2 separate regions of the Homo sapiens genome follow, and region 1 is linked to region 2. A link means that fine-mapping ties the variant in region 2 to the expression of a gene that starts in the linked region. Tissue or cell type: whole blood. Region 2 holds a variant in brackets; the other region holds the start of a gene. All regions are shown on one strand. Distances are between the middles of the regions.

The links. PIP is the estimated chance that this variant, and not a neighbour inherited with it, causes the effect.
Region 1: it holds the start of FOXO4, and the variant in region 2 is fine-mapped to the expression of FOXO4 in whole blood (TOPMed, PIP 0.97).

What each region holds. Positions count from the first base shown.
Region 1 is chrX:71,091,426-71,099,532 of GRCh38, forward strand. It overlaps FOXO4 (forkhead box O4), which reads left to right and starts at 4,426. Exons shown (of 3, transcript NM_005938.4): 1 at 4,426-5,556. The coding sequence starts at 5,104. RefSeq lists an enhancer at 6,894-7,188.
Region 2 is chrX:71,006,749-71,014,855 of GRCh38, forward strand. No RefSeq gene overlaps it. Among named protein-coding and RNA genes, the nearest start is that of SNX12, 58 kb to the right of the region's middle. The variant C/T (reference allele first, on the strand shown) is at 4,880.

The DNA of each region.
Region 1 (8,107 bases), 85 kb after region 2:
TTGGCAAAAGACCTGTGGTAGGGGCGTGGCACCCAAGTAGAAGAGTGGGCGGTGGCAGTGAAAGTCAAGAGAGCCAAACCCCTATGACCTTGAAGAGGAAAAAAAACAAATTGTGAATGGGGGGACATTTGAGAAAATAAACTCTGGGGTTTCAAACTGGGAGAAAAGCCTGTGTCTTCTAAATCCTGCCATTATCTGTTTGTAGCTTACAGCTACGGTGGTTTCTGGGAGCCTCCTATTAATCTTGTTTCCTGCCCAATGTCTTTTTATTTTCCAAGACCATCTTGCTAATTCTGTCTCTTGACTAATGTTATTTTGCAACATTTTCACAGCTGAACAACCCTGACCTCTCTATCTGCATGCTTTAAAGTCATGATGGTGTTTTTACCATCCCACCAATCCTTTAGCTCGTCCTCCTAAATTATCTGGTCCTATGACGTGTGGTCATTTTTATCTGTCCAGGATTTCAAGGTGTACTCTCAACAGTAAAGGCTCCACAAACATCCGTTGATTGATAGTAGAGTTTATAATCTAGTTGGGGAGACAATATGCCCTCATGAAATGAAAAGCCATGTAAGCAGAAGCACAAAGTTAAAGAATACAAGCCGGGCGCAGTGGCTCACGCCTGTAATCCCAGCACTTTGGGAGGCCGAGGCGGGTGGATCACTGAGGTCAGGAGTTCAAGACCAGCCTGGCCAACATGGTGAAACTCCGTCTCTACTAAAAATACAAAAATCAGCCAGGTGTGGTGGCGCTCGCCTGTAATCCCAGCTACCAGGGAGGCTGAAGCAGGAGAATTGCTTGAACCCAAGAAGTGGAAGGTGCAGTGAGCCGATATCGCACCACTGCACTCCAGCCTGGGCGACAAAGCAAGACTCTGTCTCAAAAAAAAAATAAATAAAAAATAAAAATACAAACTGAGTTCATAGAGGTTCAGGAGATGCAAATTGGAGAAGTGGCCTGTCAGGTTGGACTAGTCAGGAAAAGTTTCCAAGGGCAGGTTAGTTTTGAGCTTTGAATTGTAAATTTAAGGAGGTGATGGACATGAGTTGGTGGAGAGGTGGACCTTTTCAAACAAATGCACAAAGAGAGACAATGCAAGATTTAACTCAGGCCAGGACAGGTGCCTGCCCCACCCTGCCATTTCCCTGTCTCAGTAACTCTGCATGATCTGCCATCATAGCTGTTTCAGTTAGAAGAGATCTCCTTGTGACCTAGTGCCACAAGGCTCTCTCCTCTACCAAATTCACCACTCATGCAGCACTTATCAGGCACCCTTAGCTGGGGTGAAGGAAAAAGGGGCATGTGCAGGGAATGTTTGCAGGCATCGTGAGCAACTATGTCTCATCTCTCTAGTCTGGACCTCAGATGGGAATATATGGCCTTTTGTATACACCTAGGTAACAGGTGGAGGACAAATGCATGTTGGAGCAGAAGAAGGCAGGAATATGGAGAACCAATATGGCTATTTTACCATGATCAGGCTAATATCACTTTGGAGGCCCAATGTGCTGCCACCGCTGAAAAATCCTGGGTTGCATGGATATCCTTCTGCACAGGAGGAAGGCCGCATCATCACAGAACACAATAGAAACACTGCAAGTGGCAGACAAGCCAAATTACAGTCCCTGCCCCTCAGAGGTTGCTGTCTAACAGTTGGAACAGGGCCAGGCAAAAAATGCATAGGACATGTTTATTTAAAAGTTGTTAAATGTCCAAATGCTATTTGTGATACTTCATTTAATAAATGATATTTGCCGAGCACTGTGGCTCACACCTGTAATCCCAACACTTTGGGAGGCCAAGGCGGGTGGATCACCAGAGGCCAGGAGTTCAAGACCAGCCTGACCAACATGGTGAAAACCCATCTCTACTAAAAATACAAATATTAGCTGGGAATGGTGGCAGGCACCTGTAATCCCAGCTACTCGGGAGGCTGAGGCAGGAGAATCGTCTGAACCTGGGAGGTGGAGGTTGCAGTGAGCCGAGATTGTGCCATTGCACTCCAGCCTGGGTGACAGAGCGAGACCCTGTCTAAAAAAAAAATAAATAAGAGCTCACAGTTTACTGGGAGAGACAGATAAGTAAACAAATAATTACAATACAATATAGTTTGTGCTATATAACATAAGACTGCACAAAGTGCTTAGGAATGCAGAAAAAAAAGGAGAACTAATCACACCTAAGGGAGACAGGGAAGGCTGAATAGGAGTTTTCCAAAATAAGAGACGTGGAGAGGAATGACAAGAGGGATGATATCCCAGGATGCAGAGAGAAAGGTATAAAAGGGCATGGTATTTCCAGGAAATAGTGTGAAACTCTGCTTGTAACTTAGTGTGCAGGAAAGGTGTGAAGTGGCCTGAATCTGAGGAGCCTGGCATGCCTTGCGAGGGAATTTGAACTTTATCACACAGGCAATGGGGAAAATCAGAGGAAGATTTAACCAGGGAAATTACATGATCAAAAAAACAAAATTTATAGCCAGGTGCGGTGGCTCATGCCTGTAATCCCAGCACTTTCAGAGGCCAAGGCAGGTGGATCACTTGAAGTCAGGAGTTCCAGACCAGCCTGAGCAACACGGTGAAACCCCGTCTCTACAGAAAATACAAAAATTAGCTGGGCGTGGTGGCACATGCCTGTAGTCCCAGCTACTCCCGAGGCTGAGATGGGAGGATTGCTTGAGTGCAGCAGGTCAAGGCTGCAGTGAGCCAAGATCACACCACTGCATTCCAGTCTGAGTGACAGAGCAAGACCCTGTCTCAAAAAAGAAGGAAAGAAGGAAGGAAGGAAGGAAGGAAGGAAGGAAGGAAGGAAGGAAGGAAGGAAGGAGAAAGAAAGAAAGAAAGAAAGAAAGAAAAAGAAAGAAAGAAAGAAAGAAAGAAAGAAAGAAAGAAAGAAGGAAGGAGAAAGAAAGAAGGAAGGAAGGAAGGAAAGAAAGAAAGAAGGAAGGAAAGAAAGAAAGAAATTATACGATCGCATGTAAGTTATATAATCCCAGTTCTGCCTCGTTGGGCAAGTCAATCTCTGAGCATTGTTAGTGTCTTCATCTATAAAATGCGGATAATAGTGGTACCTACCTCATGGGGTTGAATTGAGGAGTAAATGATTGAGGAGTAAATGAACTAATGTTCGTAAAGCAATTTGCACAGAGACTGGCACATAATAAGGGCTCCATAAATTTTAGCCATAATTACCAGACATGTTTCTTAGAACGGTAACCTTGCTGGCAGCTCTGAATATAAACTGTAGTGAGGTAAAGACTGATGGAAGGAGATCCAATTAAGATGATACTGCACCTTTTTTTTTTTTTGACAGGGTGTTATTCTGTCACCCAGGCTGGAGCACAGTGGCATGATCTTGGCTCACTGCAACCTCCACCTCTTGGGTTCAAGCGACTCTCCCACCTCAGCCTCCCAAGTAGCTGGGACTACAGGTGCGTGCCCCACACCAGGCTAATTTTTCTATTTTTAGCAGAGATGGGTTTCACCATGTTGGCCAGGCTGGTCTCAAACTCCTGACCTCAAGTGATCCGCCTGCCTCGACCTCCCAAAGTGCTGATATTACAGGCGTCAGCCACTGCACCCGGCTGATCCTACAATTTAAATGCAGTTATAAATAGGTCTTGAACTGGGATTTGGATGTAGAAAGTTACGGAGATGAAGAAGTAATGGGTAATTACCTCTAAGCTGCTGCTTGGAGCTTGGGAGACTGGGTAGATCAGGACTACCATAAGTCAAATTCAGAGATAAGGGTAGCCAGAGGATAGGGGTGCGGGTGCAGGAACAGATAATGAGTTTGGACCTGTTGAATGAGAAGTGAAGCCGTTGGAGATGTGAACCTGGAGAATATCGGTGTTGAAGGGAAAGCCAGAAGAGCCAGTGGAGGAAACTGATTGGTAAGTGAGACCTCACTGTCAGTGGGAACTGCATATGGGGGGATGAAGGCGGGTGGAGGGAGGAGGAAGGGGGTGAGGAGGAACACCACCGTGGGCTAACCATTTGTTTATGTTACACAAGCCCCCCACCCAACTCTCCAACGTGCATACATCCTATTTTCTAGTCAGTTCCTTGCTTCTTGCTTCTTGGTCTCCTGCATCTTTAAGAGAATAATTTTTTCCCTTTTGCCGTCTCCTAAATGAAGGAGGGAAAGGGCTAGCACCTCTCAATCTGGTCACCTACACGACTCTGAATCACAAGGGAGACAATGGAAAGGGGGAAAGGGCGAAAAACGATTCTTAAGAAAAGAAAGAGTCCGCGACGACTTCTAATAATTAAAGTTCCACCTCGTTATATCCTGCCACGCCGCTCTCCTGCCGCCGTATCGGGCTCCTGGCCGCGAAGCAGGACGGGAGATGTAGTCCTCAAGAGTGACCAGGGTGGCACGACTGCAGAACTCGGTTTCCCGACTGGCTTTCGAGGCGCGTGCGCAGATGGCTGCCCCGGCGAGTGGTAAACAGAGACGTCAGGAGGGGGCTGCTGCTTGGAGCAAAACAAAAGGGAAACCCGGGGGGCGGGGGGTGGGGGGGGTTGATAGGGGAATCGGTGCGGGAATAAGGGAGGCCGCAGCCGCGGGGACCCGGACCCTAGTAAGAGTGGCGAGAAGGGAAGAGGCGGGGGAAGGGGGAGTCAGGGGAGGGGCAAGTGACGCGGGGGAGCGGGGCGTGGGGGAGGGCAGCAATCCGGGTGGAGGAAATTTGGGAGGAGTGTCCGGGGGGCAGCAACTTAAAAGGGGGAGGGAACTGCGGCTAAGGAGACGTTCGGTGATGGGAGCGCAATATATGAGGGGATACAGTGCCTCAGGTTTAAAAGAGCAGGAAGCTGAGTGAGAGGTTGCAGAAAAAGTGTCTTCGCTCGGCAGAGGTTACAGGTGGCATCTCAGAAAGAGCTTTGAGGCTACAGGCTGTAGTCGGGAAGGGGATCGGAGAACTGTGTGAAGGGACAGCTTAGGGACTAGCGTCCTGGGACTAGGGGGAAGTTCGCGACTTTCTGAAGACTGGCAGGAATGTGCCTCCTGGCCCTCGATGCTTCCCCCCTGAGGGGAGGCATCGTGAGGGACTGTGGCAGGCTTCACTGAACGCTGAGCCGGGGAGGTCCAACTCCACGTATGGATCCGGGGAATGAGAATTCAGCCACAGAGGCTGCCGCGATCATAGACCTAGATCCCGACTTCGAACCCCAGAGCCGTCCCCGCTCCTGCACCTGGCCCCTTCCCCGACCAGAGATCGCTAACCAGCCGTCCGAGCCGCCCGAGGTGGAGCCAGATCTGGGGGAAAAGGTACACACGGAGGGGCGCTCAGAGCCGATCCTGTTGCCCTCTCGGCTCCCAGAGCCGGCCGGGGGCCCCCAGCCCGGAATCCTGGGGGCTGTAACAGGTCCTCGGAAGGGAGGCTCCCGCCGGAATGCCTGGGGAAATCAGTCATATGCAGAACTCATCAGCCAGGCCATTGAAAGCGCCCCGGAGAAGCGACTGACACTTGCCCAGATCTACGAGTGGATGGTCCGTACTGTACCCTACTTCAAGGACAAGGGTGACAGCAACAGCTCAGCAGGATGGAAGGTAATTATGACCCTCTTACCTTCTTCCCAACACCATCTACCCCCTGGACCCCCTAGCCTCCCTTACTTCTACTCTGGGGCCCCTTTTACTACCTCCCACCCCCACCCCCTTTGGGAAGCCCAGAGATCCACCTTCAATCTCCAGTTAGACAAACATTTACTTAGTACATAGTATATGCCACACTCGGTGCTTGATGCTGAAGGATCACAGATGAATAAGACACTGTCCCTGCCCTGGAGAAAATTGAATTCTCTGCTCACTGCTCAATATTCGCAGCACTTTGGCTTGGGCTGCCCCAAACACTTATTCCCACAGAGAAGTCTTTATCCTATGTACAGCAGGAACTGTGTGGATTCCCCACATGAACCTACCCTTCCCTCCTCCCCCACCTCCCACCCCAACACCTTTTCTCCCATTCCTGTGGGATTACTTGGATTCCCTGCTTGCCTCCCAGTACCTCAGTGTAGTGGTACTGTTCTAGCACTGCTCTACCCAGGAGGAGGGAGTGCAGTGGCAAAGGGTAAAAACAATAATATTCATGGGGAAAGGTAGCTGATCTCATGCACTAAGAAGAAAAAGGGCTGTGAGCTGCCACTTGGCTCAGCTTACCCTGTGCTGCCAAGAAACTCTCCCTTGTAAGGGGCTATCCAAGTTTTGGGGGGAAGTCATCCTTTACTGTTAAGGAATATTAGTCATGAAGAAGGAGGTAGGGCTCTGACTTTAGAGCACAAAGTTGGGAGTTCTCTTGGCCTTCTGTGAAGAAACTGTGAGAGAATATCTCAAAGGATACTCTGAAAAACTTGTCCTGAGAAAATATGGGGCTGTAATCACAAAATTGGGGAGCCTCAAGCCCTATTGCTGGCTTGTACCTCTCTAGGTGGTGAGGTCAGCATATAACCAAGTACAGAAGGTTGGATGAGCAGAGGAACTTCCCCTAGGTATAGGAGACTGAGGGATCAGATCTGTGCTATCCCTAGGGGCTGGGCAGAACAGAAGATAGGACAGCTGACTGAGACCCTTGGCACTATTTCTGGGTAGACTGCCACGCCACAGTCTCAGCTCATAAAAAGCTCCCCTCCTTGGACCCAGCCTACACAGCTGTTTTTCTTTTCCCTTAGGTTCATTTTCCAGGGTAGAGGAAATAACAAGTTGTTAGTTATATTGTGGGAGTATAGTCCGTCCTTATAATCTACACTTCTGTGGGGCTTTAGAGTTTACAAAGTAGTTTTTAAAGTTTTTATTTTATTAATCTTTACAGCAATTCTGAGATTCCACATTTTACACATTAGGAAACTAGGTACCAAAAGGTTAGGAAATTCACCTAATAACAGCAGGGTGAGGACTTGAACTCAGGTCTAACTATAAATCATATTCTCTAAAAAGAGCCTGGCTTGCTCTAATTGGAATGAGGGCAAAGTCAAATCAGGCTGAGCCTGGGACTTCAAGGCCCCCCCACCCCTCTCTGAGGGGAAGTCTCATGCCTGAACTGGCCTCCCTGATGATATGCCAAGGTTACTCCCACCCCACCAGGGGGCGGCACTCACTTAGAACAAGAAAGTTTAGATTAGGTGGCTTAGGGAGCAATTAGCAGTCACCCCCACCACCCTGCCCTCCAACATGTAAGAGTTATGGGCTTTTGGGAAACTGACCTCTCCAATTAAGAGTCTGTGTACCACTTGCTAGTTCCAAGGCCTAAAGAAGAGGAGACAAACGGGCCTTGTGGCTATTAAGTAGTAGGGAAAGGAATGGATCTTCTCAAGTAGATCCAGAATTAGAGGATAAAAAGAGGAGAAATCATAGTGCCAGGTCATGGTCATTGTGGTCCTTAGTTACTATGAGGTGAGGCCGGATGGACAAGTGCCACTCCTTGAAGGAACATCAGCACAGTTGAAATGCCATTACCTCAGGGTCCCAGGAACACAAGGAGTTCTTTGGCTAAAGAACCCTGGAACAAGAAGCATCATTCCCCAGGCAAAGGTGCTCCTTATCTTAAGAGCACCAGTCAGAGAAACAAGTAGTTTCTGACCGTCCCATGTACTCAGCCTCCTAGTTGCTCTAAGCACTTCTGGGCTCCTCCTGAATTTCTAAACTAAAGACCTCCAAGTGGGAGGTCAAATGCCCCCAAGGTTGAAGAGTTTATGCACAAATTCCTGAGAAATGGGGGAAAGGCACTGGGAAGGAGGTAGGGAAAAGAAGGCAGGTTTCGGGAAGGGGGGTGGCCAGGGGAGGGCCAAACCCCTTGTGTAACTAGCCTGCCCCGCGGCAATCAGTAAATATAAGCTGCACTGGGGGCTGAAGAAGCTGCCAATCTCAGCTCCCTGGGCCACTGGAAAGCATCGTTTCCCTAGTAGAATGTCACCAGTGAGGGAGGAAGGGAAAACATACAGCTTCCAATACCCAAGGCACTGAAGAGCTGGCAGAGCCTCAAGGGGAGCCTCACCATTGTCAACCCAGGGGCAACCCACCAATCAGGTACAAATATTGATTATGTACTGTGAGCTTGAGTAGGTATAGAATATGTGCTGTGAGCTTGGTGCTCTGGGAGGGCTTT
Region 2 (8,107 bases):
CTACAATTTTGAAATCTGAAAATAAACCAAAAGTATTTTTCATGATTTTGGCTTTTTTCACTTTGCTTATGGCGTTTTGGTATTTTTTACTACTTACAATTTTTTCAAGGTTATCAATAATTTTCTTTATGGTTGTGCTTGCCTTACTCTTCCAGCCACTATAAACTGGTTTCTGAACCATACCATTCCAATTATACTGCTCAAGAAGGTCACCAATTGTGCTTAAAAGCCAAATTTCATGAGCGTTTTCAAGTATAATGAAATAACTAGTTGACCTCTGCAGCATTTGATCCTATTCATCTTTTTCTACCTTAGAACTTTCACCTCCCTTAGCTTTGACACCACTATCTCCTTAGTGCTCTGAATCTCTCTCTCAACCAACAGTCTACACACTATTAATGGGATACAGCACTGTGCAGTGGGATTCAGAATTTTCATTAAAATTACCGACAATTCATGTGCTCTCACGTCCAACTGGGTGATGTGCTATGTGTGGTAGGTGTGATATATCATGAAAAACTTACTGTGCAAAAATATTGAGTGTTTCAATTAAGGATTTATTAAGGTAAAAATATATTAATGAGTAATTTCCAAATGAATTCGATACAACAGTGATGTGACATTAATGCCAATGAACTCAGGGAAAAAAGAACTTAGGAGATAAATTATGTATCTGCTACCCCCTACACTAATTGTTACGTGTTCATATCTTTGTTTCTCTCTAAGTGCCTATGTGTCACTTAGACTAGCATATAGTTAGCTGCTGATTGATGTGTATCTTCTCCAAAAGGTAAATTTAGTCACAACATTCTCAATCCAAGCACAAAATAAAGGTCAGATACTGCAAAGAAAAATACCTTATTGTGCAATATTTTACAAACAGCATAGTAATACTTGTTTTAGGCAAGAATCATCAATGAATGCTAGAACTAGTGGGTGAAAGTTTGATGAGAAACAAGATATTCTCAAAATATCTTCCTCAAAGATATTTATTAGTTGCAAAGGGAAGAATAGTACCTTGAGAATGTAGAAAACTGGCAGATCTTTTTAACCAACTGGTGATCAACATTAATATCACCAGTAATGGCACAAATAAATATCATGTGCCTCCTGATATTATGCACTGAGAAGGACACAAATTACTTCTGTACTATTCCTACTGAAAATGCTTAACTTGAATTAAATTGCATGGAAACATCAGACAAACCCAAAATGAGGGACATTCTAAAAAAACTGACCTATGTTCTTCAAAAATATTAATGCCATGAATGACAAAGAAAGGCTAAGGAATATGTTCCAGATTAAAGGAAACTAAAGTTGGTGGTTTCCCAAAATGTTAAATATAGAATTACCATATGACCCAGCAATTCCACTCCTAGGTATATGCCCAAGAGATTCAAAACAAATATTCAAACAAAACCTTGAAAACATATGTTCATAGAAGCACTATTCACAGTAGTGAAAAGGTAAAAACAACCCAAACGTCCATCAGTGGATAACTGGAAAAACAAAATGTAGTGTATCCACACAATGGAATATTTTTCAGCCAGAAAATGGTTGAAGTAATGATACATGCCAAAATGTGGATAAACCTTGAAAATATCATGCTAAGTCAAAGAAGTCAGACACAAAAACCACATATTGGATGATTTCATTTACATGAAATGTCCAGAATAAACAAATCCACAAAGACAGAAAGCACATTGGTGGTTGCCAGGGGCTTGGGAGAAAGCAGGACAAATTACATGTATTTTTTTTTTTTTCTGAGAGAGGGTCTTGCTCTGTCACCCAGGCTGGAGTACAGTGGTGTGACCATGGCTCACTGCAGCCTTGAACTCCCGGGGTCAATCGATCCTCCCATCTCAGCCTCCCAAGTAGTTGGGACTACAGGCATGCACCACCACACCTGGCTAATTTTTGTATTTTTTGTTTTGTTTTTATTTAACTTGTATTTTAAGTTCAGGGTACATGTGCAGGTTTGTTATATAGATAAACTTGTGTCATGGGGGTTTGTTGTACAGGTTATTTTATCACCCAGGTATTAAGCCTAGTACCCATTAGTTATTTTTCCTGATCCTCTCTCTCCTCCCACCCTCCAATAGGCTTCAGTGTGTGTGGTTTTTTTGTTTGTTTGTTTGTTTTTGTTTGTTTTTTGTTTTTGAGATGGAGTCTCGATCTGTCGCCCAGGCTGGAGTGCAGTGGCGCAATCTCGGCTCACTGCAAGCTCCACCTCCCAGGTTCACACTATTTTCCTGCCTCAGACTCCCCAGTAGCTAGCTGGGACTACAGGCACCCGCCACCACGCCCGGCTAATTTTTTTTGTATTTTTAGTAGAGACGGGGTTTCACCATGTTAGCCAGGATGGTCTCGATCTCCTGACCTCCTGATCCACCCGCCTCGGCCTCTCAAAGTGCTGGGATTACAGGCGTGAGCCACCGCACCCAGCCCAGTGTGTGTTGTTTCCCTCTATGAGTCCATGTGTTCTCATCATTCAGCTCCCACTTATAAGTGAGAACATGCGGTATTTGGCTTTCTGTTCCTGCATTAGTTTGCTAAGAATAATGGTCTACAGCTCCATCCATGCTCCTACAAAGGACATGATCTCATTCTTTTTTGTGGCTGTATAGTATTCCATGGTGTATACATACCACATTTTCCTTATCCAGTCTACCATTGATGGGCATTTAGGTTGATTTCATGTCTTTGCTATTGTGATTTGGTCACAATGAACATACATGTGTATGCCTTTAAAACAGAATGGTTTATATTCCTTTGGGTATATACCCAATAAAGAGATTGCTGGGTCTAATGGTATTTCTGTTTTTAGGTCTTTGAGGAATTGCCACACAATCTTCCACAATGATTGAACTAATTTACACTCCCACCAGCAGTATGTAAGTGTTCCTTTTTCTCCACAACCTTGCCAGCAGCTGTTATTTTTTGACTTTTTAATAGTAGCCTGATGTGAGATGGTATCTCATTGTGGTTTTGACTTGCATTTCTGTAATGATCAGTGATGTTGAGCTTTTTTCATATTTTTGTTGGCCACATGTATGTTTTCTTTTGAAACATGTCTGTTTATGACCTTTGTGGGGTTTTGCCATTTTGCCCACCAACCCAAGTCCCACCTCCTCAGTATGCTTTTCAAAAAAAGTATTGTAACCTTGAAAGTACAATGTATCTCAAACTATGGATCACTCCCAAAGTACCTAGCATAGCTCTGGGCATAAAGAACCCAAGTAAGTGCTTTCCCAAACTGATGCATACATAAATTAACAAGAACAAAATTCAGATTATTTAATGAACATAATCTCAATCTCCTTCACTGGCTCCTCATTCTCTGCTCATCCCTTAAACACTATTGTGAAAATGGGGCTTATATTAATACCTACTTCATGTAAGGTTGTTGTGAGAATTGAATGAGTAAGTACATATAAAACATTTAGTATAGTGCCTGCTACATAGTAGGTGCTCAGTAAATGTTAGAAATTATTATATCGCTGTCACTTTTCCCCAAACTTTTGTTATTGCCTGTAGTCTCATTCTTGGTTAATGGTCTCACCATTGACCTAGGCTCCTAAACCTATTTTCATGCCATTTAATGGCTTCAATCCCTTCTTAACTCCTCTCACACTCCCCATATTCACTTAGTCACCAAAGGCCTATTGATCCTTCTTTAAGGATCTGGGCTGGGCACAGTGGCTCACGCCTGTAATCCCAGCACTTTGGGAGGCTGAGGTGGGTGGCTCACCTCTGGTCAGGAGTTTGAGACCAGCCTGGCCAAAATGGTGAAACCCTGTCTCTACTAAAAATAAAAAAAAAATTAGCTGGGCATGGTGGCACGTGCCTGTAATCCCAGCTACTCGGGAGGCTGAGGCAGGAGAATCACTTGAACCCAGAAGGCAGAGGTTGCAGTGAGCCGAGATCACACCATTGCACTCCAGCCTGGGCGATAGAGCAAGAATCCATAAAACAAAACAAAACAAAACAAAACCTCTCTGAATATATCACCTGCTCTCTTTTGTTCAGGCCCTCATTTCTCCCTTGAGAATACCAATGTCCTTCTAGTCTCCCTACCTCTGGCCTTTCCCCTGCCCAGTCTTCTTTATACTGTAACCATCCATCTAAAACACAGTTTACTCTCCCCTTTAAAGCTCCTCAACTGCTACCAGTTATTCACATAGTTTGGCATGCAAGGCTCTTCTGTGCTCTGACCACTGCCTACCTATCCAACTTTACCTTCTATCCAATTCTTTATTCTATACCTATAGTTCAATTATACCAGTCTATTTTCAGTTATAAGAATGGGCCATGCTGTTTCACCCCAGCATACCTGGGTAGTTTAAATTCTTCTTCCTGAAATATCCTTCCTAACTTTGTGCATTTTGTAAATACTTATTCATTCCCTGTTTCCATTTAATTACCTTCTCTGTGAAGATGTCTCAAATCTCACTCTCCATTGTTATACTTTATCACATTTTATGTTTGTTTCCCCTACTACTAGATTGCTCTTATTCCTGAAAAGCAAAAGCCATGTCTTATTCATATATTTATTCTCAATGTTTTGCATAGTATCTAGTACATAGTGTGTTGGGAGGAGATGGTTAGTTAATGACTAAATAAGCCGCCTCTCTGGCCTTATTTCCTACTATCCTACTGGTTCCATGGATACACATAGCACTTTCTAGCCTCTCTCCTTTGCTGCTGCCAATCTCTGTGCCTACAGTGTTTTCCACTACTTCATCTCAACCTACTGAAAACCTATTTTCCATGGGGCAGGTGATTCTTATCTCTTGTTGCTACCTTTTCTGATCACCATGGCTAAAAATGATCTCTTTCTTAGCCCGGTCTCTATTACATGGTGAGATCTTAGGATCAA[C/T]AAGATCCAAAGATCAATAAGATTTTAGGATAGATAAGATCTAAAGATCAATAATATCCACTCTCTGCCCTCAAGAACTCACTGTCTACCATGGGGGTCCTTAAGCTAGGACAGTGGTTCTTGAAGCCTAGTGAATAAAAGAATTACCTGGTGGGATTGTTCAAGATATTTGAGGCCTACCCTCAAAAGATTCTGATTTAGTAACTCAGGTTGCTTTATAAACAAGCATTCCTAGTGATTCTAATGCAGGTGAATAGTCTGTGCATGTCCTTTGGGAGGTTCATGAACCTGATGAACAACTGTGTAAATATATACGTACATGTGTATTTTTCTAGACAGATTCCACAGTTTATAGTACATCATCTATGACCTCTAAAATAGTTTAAAAGTCACTGATCAAATGGGAAATAGATATGTTAACTGACAGGTTACAAAACAATCCAGCTAAGTGATAGAAGAGAAATATGAATAAAGTGCTGTGGGAATATAGATCAGAAAGCAACTAAGTGTCCCAGAGACAGCTAAGAAAAGCTTCATGTGAGGGTAACATTTTATTTATTTATTATTTATTTGTTTTTAGAGGCAGGATCTCACTCTGTTGCCCAGGCTGGAGTATAGTAGCACAATCATATCACATGAAATCATATCATATGAAATCATATGATTTCATATTGTGAAATCATAGTTCACTGCAGCCTCCAAGTCCTGGGCTCAAGAGGTCCTCTACCTCAGCCTCCCAAATAGCTGTGACTACAGGTGTGCACCACCACAGCCCGCTAATTTTTTTTTTCAGAGATGAAAGTCTCACTACCTTGCCAAGCTGGTCTTAAACCCCTGGCCTCAAGTGATCCTCCTGCCTCAGCCTCCTGTGTAGCTGAGATTATAGGTGTGTTACCAAACCCAGCTTAGGTTAACATTTTAGCAGGATTTTCTAAAGTGAGTATACATTTGCCAAGTGCAGTAGAATGCTGGTAATTCTAGGCATAGGGAACAGGATATGTAAAGACACAGAGATACAAAAAAGAAGTTTTACTTTCAATATGTCTAGAATATTTTGAAAGGAGATACATGTGAATAATGAGACTAGAGACACAGGTAGGGCTTTGTATGCCAAGTTAAATAGTTGCTTTGCTTTGTTTTGTTTTGTTTTGTTTTTCAGAGATAGGCTGGAGTGCAGTGGTGCTCGTAGCTCACTGGAATCTCCAACTCCTAGGCTCAAGTGATCCTCCTGTCTCAGCTTCCCAAGGCACTAAAACTAGAGTGTGCAGTATTTTTTTTTATTTATTTAGTACAGATAGCGTCTCATTCTGTCACCCAGGCTGCTCTCAAACCCCTGGCCTCAACTAATCCTCCTACTTCAGCTTTCCAAAGTGCTGGGATTACAAACATGAGCCACCACGCCTGGCCTGTTAAAGAGTTTTATTCTGTAAATAACAGAGAAACAAGAGTAGTTTTTAAATTAAGGTAAATTAAGGTAAAATTCACCATTTTAACCACTTTATATTTTTTATTTATTTATTTATTTTAGAGACAGGGTCTTGTTCTGTTGCCAAGACTGGAGTACAGTGGCACAATCATAGCTCACTGCAGCCTCACACTCCTGGTCTCAAGTGATCTTACTGCCTCAGCCTCTCAAGTTGCTGGGATCACAAACCCAAGCTACTGTGCCCAGCTAAGTTTTGTATTTTTACTAGAGACGGCGTTTCACCATGTTGGCCAGGCTGGTCTCAAACTCCTGACATCAAGTGATCCACCAGCCTTGGCCTCCCAAAGTGCTGGGAGTATGGTCGTGAGCCACTGCACCTGGCCAGGAGATCTATTGTACATCATGATGACTATAGTGGCTCCCAGGCATTGGGAGAAAAGGAATGAATAGGTGGAGCACAGAGGATTTTTAGGGCAGTGAAACTATTCTGTATGATACTGTAATGGTAGATACATGTCACTAAACATTTGTTGAAACCCATAGAATATATAATACCAAGAGTGAACCCTAATGTAAACTATAGACCTTGGGTAGTAATGATGGTTCATTGATAGTGACAAATATACCACTCTGGTGTGGGATGTTGATAGTAAAAGAGATTGTGCGTGTGTGGACAGGAAGTATACGGGAACTCTCTATACCTTTTGCTCAATTTTGCTGTGAACTAAAACTTCTCTAAAAAATAAAGTGTATGGCCAGAAGCGGTGGCTCATGCTTGTAATCCCAGCACTTTGGGAGGCCAAGGTGGGTGGATCATGAGGTCAGGAGTTCGAGACCAGCCTGGCCAACATGGTAAAACCCCGTCTCTACTAAATACAAAAATTAGCCAGGCGTGGTGGTGCGCGTCTGTAGTCCCAGCTACGCTGGAGGCTGAGGCAGGAGAATCACTTGAACCTGGGAGTTGGAGGTTGCAGTGAGCCAAGATCGCACCATTGCACTCCAGCCTGGGCAACAGAGCAAGACCCTGTCTCAAAAAATTAAAATAAATAAAACAATGTAAAACAATAACAACAAAAAATCCTGTATCTTTAAACTTTATCCCCTATGACTCCTTTTTTAGGCCTCCTGCCCTTTTAGGGCAAATTCTCCTGCCTCAGCCTCCCAAGTAGCTTTTTTAGGCCTCACAAAACTTGGTCCATAAAAACCAGTCCATCCCTTTCCTTGCTATCTAGACTGAGAGGCCTAACTCCTCCTCCTTAACTTTGATAAGCCGTCTGAAAAGCCTCTTTAGTACCTCTTCTTTAGTCTCCCTGTGACACTTCAACTCCCGGCAGCCTGCTTTACTCTACCCAGACAAATAACCTAATGACTTATGTCCAAAAGGTGATCTGAACTGATTAAGGAGGAAACTCTTTTTTCTTAGAGATTGTGTCTCACTATGTTGCCCAGGCTGGTCTCAAACTACTGGTCTGAAGTGATTCTCCCACCTCAGCCTCCTGAGTAGCTGGGACTACAGGTGCGTGCCGCCATGCCCAGCTATCTTTTATACTTTACCATCTTCTCTGTTTTCAACTAGCATGGCCTATCCACCTAACCTGTCCATCGTTTTACTATTTTCCAAAAAATTCAAGATTTGAGTCAAACAGAAACATTAAAAATACTAATGGTAAATACTAAGAATGCTAATGTTGGCTGGGCGCGGTGGCTCATGCCTGTAATCCCAGCACTTTGGGAGGCCGAGGCAGGCAGATCACCTGAGGTCAGGAGTTTGAGACCAGCCTGACCAACATGGATAAACCCCA